Linked DNA regions of Homo sapiens: region 2 is linked to region 1. Evidence: fine-mapped expression QTL. Tissue or cell type: whole blood. Region 1 holds a variant in brackets; the other region holds the start of a gene. All regions are shown on one strand. Distances are from middle to middle.

Evidence for each region. PIP is the estimated chance that this variant, and not a neighbour inherited with it, causes the effect.
Region 2: it holds the start of PARD3, and the variant in region 1 is fine-mapped to the expression of PARD3 in whole blood (TOPMed, PIP above 0.99).

The regions. Positions count from the first base shown.
Region 1 is chr10:34,708,883-34,711,639 of GRCh38, forward strand. The region is part of intron 1 of PARD3 (par-3 family cell polarity regulator); the gene reads right to left. Among named protein-coding and RNA genes, the nearest start is that of PARD3, 110 kb to the right of the region's middle. The variant C/T (reference allele first, on the strand shown) is at 1,490.
Region 2 is chr10:34,813,833-34,816,332 of GRCh38, forward strand. PARD3 (par-3 family cell polarity regulator) reads right to left here and starts at 1,464. Exons shown (of 25, transcript NM_001184785.2): 1 at 1,044-1,464. The coding sequence starts at 1,163. PARD3-DT (PARD3 divergent transcript) reads left to right here and starts at 1,936. Exons shown (of 2, transcript NR_108043.1): 1 at 1,936-1,969; 2 at 2,288-2,500. RefSeq lists silencers at 703-982, 1,503-1,672, 1,763-1,812.

The DNA.
Region 1 (2,757 bases):
GGAAATGATTCTTAATTGTCCATGTGATAATAGCTTTGTGGATATTTAAGGAAACACCCTTATTCTAAGGAGTTGTGTTCTGAAGTATTTAAAGTGCCATGTCTGCAAATAGTGCAAAAAAATACACACGTACACATATATGTACATGTGCACATGTACATATACATATAAACATACAGGTGAGAACCCCTAACCCAAAATGCTTGGGACCAAAAGTGTTTCAGATTTCCATTTTTTTCAGATTTTGGAATATTTACATGCACATGAGATTTCTCGAAGATGGGACCCAAATTTAAACAAAAAAAGTCATTTATGTTTCAAATATGCCTTATACACATAACCAGAAGGTAATTTTATACAATATTTTAAATAATTTTTTACACGAAACCAAGTTTGTATTAAGTCCAAGTTTGTGTTAAGTACTTATGTGTGGAATTTTCCACTTGTGGTATCATGTCAGGGCTCAAAAAGTTCCAATTTGGGAGCATTTCATATTTTCAGATAACAGATGCTCCACCTGTATACACACACGCAGGAATAAATATGTATTATTAGGAGTGCGAACAGGAAAATGCAAATCATCTCAAGTATTTTAAAGAGAGGGAAGTTAATACAAGGAACTGGTACAAAGATTTGTAAGAAGAGTCGTGACTCTAAACCAGGATGGTGGTGGAGGCGGGGGCCACACACAGGTTAGCAGTAGCAGGAAGCTATGACTACCCCTGGGCTGAGGGGATAAGGGGAGGTAGCACCAGAGCCCAGGGTGGCGGAAGTGGGAGCCATGGAGGACTCAGGGGCAGGAGCTGGAATTTGGGGAGAGACTTGTTTGCTGCAGAGACACAGCCCAAAACAGAGAGGGAGAAGGGAACTACTTTGGGGCTATGTCATCCCGGGGCCTCCTATCTCCCACCAAACCTCCCACTGGCCAAACCCAACCAGAGGTCAACTGACACAGCTGTGCTTTGTATGATTCTCTCAGCTACTATTTGAGTTTTTCATAACAAATTGGGAAACCAAATTAATTTTAAACAAATTTAATGACCCAGGGTTCATGAGAATACAGGAAGCCAGCATTCTCACACACTGCGCCTGAGTATTTTGCACACATTTTTGGAGAGGCGGGGGGACAGGGAGCTAGAATTTGGTACCACGCATCAAAATGCTTAAAATGAAATATACCCATTGATCCAGAAATTTAAAATGTGGAGGAAGATACATAGCCAAGATGCATATATTAAATGGGATATTTTAATATATAACAATAGAGAATGGGAACTAGCTATACACGTAAAAACAGGAAACAGGTTGAACACATTCAATCAATTAAACACAACAGAGCAATTCACAATGTTGTTCACCGACTGTTACATAAGACTTTGTTTCATCCCTAGTTTGAAGAATGTATTATCTACAGCCATAGACAAAAGAACTGCTATGCACAACTGGCAGTGCTTGTCTATATTTCCTGGCATTCCATAATAAATATATA[C/T]GTGCAGTTTTAAATATTTATCCTCTTAAATAACTAGTGAATACATTTCTTTCTTTCCCATCTCTTCCTCTCCTGTTCCCAATAAAATGACTGTCCAATTCACTTCTAGACCCCATCTCTTCAATCCTGTGCCACATCTTGCTACATTTATCTTCACAAAATATTCCCTTTATCATGTGACTGTCCTGTAATATGAGTCATTTCCAATGACTCACTACTTTCTAAAAGTCAAAATCCAGTGTTCTTGGCCAAGCACTCAAAGCTCATCCCAAGCCGGTTTGTGACCAGCCTCAGCGTTGCCTCACCGTATTTCGATGTTCAATTGTTCTGTTCACTGATAAACCCCAAGCACCCAAAACAGTGTCTGAGACAGAGAAGATGCTCAATAAATACTGGTCAAGTGAAGAGACCCTTATGTTTTTGTTTATTCTCTTCCACATATCTGCAAAGCTTTCACCCCCAGAGTTCCAACTACCCAAATTGTATGTATCTTCCCAAATCCAGTTTATAAACCATCCCCTTGGCCGGACACAGTAACTGGCACGCATAACCTCAGCACTCCAGGAAGCCAGGGCAGGAGCATCACTCGATGCCAGGAATTCAAGACCAGCCTGGTCAACATAGCAAGACTCCATCTCTATAAAGCAATTAAAAATTAGCCAGGTGTCACGGTGCACACCTGTAGTCCCAGGTATTCCGGAGACTGAGGCAGGAGGATCACTTGAGCCCAAAAATTCAAGGCAGCTGATGAACTAAGATTGCATTGCCACACTCCAGCCTGGGTAACACACCCAAACCCCTAAAAAAAAGTAAAAACAAAAACTCCCCCTCCATGAAATGTGCTCCAACTCTGAAGTATTTACCTAGGCCAGGTGCAGTGGCTCACACCTATAATCCCAGCACTTTGGGAGGCCAAGACGGGTGGATCACTTGAGGTCAGGAGTTTGATACCAGCCTGGCCAACATGGTGAAACCCCACCTCTACTAAAAATACAAAAAGCTAGCTGGGCGTGGTGATGGGCATCTGTAATCCCAGCTACTCGGGAGGCTGAGGCAGAAGAATCCCTTGAACCCAGGAGGTGAAGGCTGCAGTGAGCCAAGACGGTGCCACTGCACTCCAGCCTGGGCACAGGGCGAGACTCTGTCTCAAAATAAATAAATATTTACCTAGAACACATTTGTCACTTAATAGCCTATTTCCTGTATATGCATGGTAATTTTTTTACTCTAGATAAGGTCTCCAAAGGCAGGGGCCATCTTCAGCTTTT
Region 2 (2,500 bases), 100 kb after region 1:
AATGCGCTCCCCACCAAAGAGGACTCTACTACAAAGGAAATATATCCCCGGGTGCTTGGGAGAAACTTCAGCGTGGGCTGTTGTCAAACACAGACACAGTCGGTAAAACAATTTAACAAAACGCCTTTTCACTTCTGACACACAGTAGAGGAATGCTGTGAAGTGGAGACAATGTTATCAGTCCACCAGGAAAAAGGGAAATCCACTCAACTCCCAAGTCAGGCCCGGCCCCGCAGCCCAGCCACATGGAACCAGCCCGGGATAGGTAGGAGCTGAGGTCCTCGCAGGAAAACTTTTCATTCCGCGACTCTTCCAAGGTTGTGCTTTCCAGAGCCCAGCAAGTGGGATCAGCTCAGTAAATGCTCGCAAGCGAGTGCCAAGTGCCAGCGGTGGCCCTCCCGGGAACGCCTCCCCGACCCCAAGCCGGCGACTCCCCAAACCCTGCAGCCCCCGGACGCGACGGGCCGCCCCTGCCGGCCCCTACCAGCAGGGGACATGGAGGAAAAGCCCCCCGCCGCTGTTCCGCCCCCGCCCGAGTAAGGGAGAGGAGGCAGAAGGCTCGCAACCCGCCTCTGTCGGAAGGGCAGTCACGAAACTCTCCTCACACCAAAAGTTCCCAGTCCCCGGCCTGTGCCCCCGGGGCCTGGGAGCCGGGAAAGGCCTGGGGCTGGATTTCCCGGCCTGCGCCCCCCGCGCGCTGGCTCGGGGCTTGGCTGGGTCTGCAGACTCCGGGGAGGCGCCCAGGGCCGGCCTATGCGCCGCTGCCCGGCTCGCCCCGCGCTACCGAGGCCGGAGCTCCCGGGCGGAGGGTGAGGGCGGGGGCCGCGGGACCCGGCTGGGTGTCCCAGAGGCTGCGCCCCGGCCCGCGCAGAGAACTTTGGCGCCCGCAGTCCGGGGCGGGGGGCGCCCGCGAGGCCCGACCGGCCGCACTTTCCCTTTCCCCGCCTCCCTGCGCCTCTCCTCCCCCTTCCAGGAAGCGCCATATTGATCCCGGCGCCGTCCCCGCCGCCGCCCCCTCCCCGCCCGCGCCCCCGGCCCCTCACCTTGGCGATGGCCTTCCGGTAGCGGGTCACCGCCTGCTGGATGAGGCTGAAAACTTTCATGTGGCCGTCCCCGCACGGCACGACCACCCGGGTCCGTCCGAAGCACACGGTCACTTTCATGCCGCCGCCGCCGCGGGCGGGCCCGCGCCCCTCGCCGAGCGCAGCCGGAGCAGCCGAGGCCGGGACCGAGGACGCTGGGCGCGGAGGAGCCGCTGGGGACTCGGGCGCGCGGGCGGCTAGGGGCGCGGGCAGGCGGCGGCGACGCCGGGGGGCCGCTCAGCTCGCATGCCCGGCCCGGCCGCCCTCGCCTCGCCTCGCTTCGCCCGGGGCTTGCCTCGCCTCTCCCCGCCGCGGCGCCCGCAGCCTCCGGCCACCTGTTCGGCGTCGCGGCGCGCTCGCCGGCGGCTGCCCGGGGCTGTGTGGCGCTGGCGCTCGCTCGGGGCCGCTGGGGGAGGGGACGGCGGGAGGGGAGGGGAGGGGAGGGGAGGGGAGGGGGAGGAGCAGGGCAGGGCACACAACACCGCGCACATGCGGCAGGGGGAGGCGCGGCCGGCTACCCGCGCGGGGCGGAGCGCAGGACCGCAGCTCGCGCCCCCGCCACCGCCCTCGGGGGCCGACCTCCTTCCCTCCTTCCCTCCCTCCCTCCCTCCCTCCGGGGGCGCGGGACCCCTCGCCCCAGTGCCAGCACGGGCAGGCGGCCGTCTGCCCCCACCAGCCCTGGCCCAGGCGCCCCCCAGCCCCCTTCACCCCGCCCGCCCAGCACCCTGCAGGGCTGCGTCGCCCCTCCTCGGGGACGCCCCTTCCACGCCTCCAGAAGTCTCCACGGAGCCCCCCTTCCCCTTTCTTTGTCACTTTTAATCCCATTCCTCGAACTGGAGGGTTTTGGGTGCAGGCGCTCCCGGGGAAAGCAGTTTGTGCTCAGTGCGGTGAGTCCCCTCCTCACCGCCCCGGAGGCTCCAGCCCGAGCCTCTCCGCCCGCGGGGACTCGAGCCTGCAGCTTGCTCGGCTGGGTTTCTGCCCTGCCCGCTCCCTAGCTCTGCTGCAGGGCCGGCAGCGGCAGTTCTGCCTGAAACGCAAGAATTAATAGTCTGCTCTGGGGAGACAGTGGGGAAGCCGTGAGCGACCGGGCCTTTTCCAGAGGCCACTATTTACCTTGAAGTTTCCTGTTGACCCTCTGCTGACCCACCCGCTTAAATAGATTAGAACTTAAACATCGCAATTCTGATACATTTATTTCTTTGAAGTTCTGCAGCATAAGGAATCCTAACGCGAATCCGTGAACAGTCTATTCCGACGGCGCAGAGAAATCTCACGCGGGGATCCCCACGATGTGCCGGCGCTTAACGCAGACGCCCGAACCCAGGGGAAGGCTGCGACTCCGCGATGAGTGACATGCGGGCTTGAGACGTTCTAAAGGAACGTGGACCGAGTTAGGGAACGTAACTGAAGCTCATTTT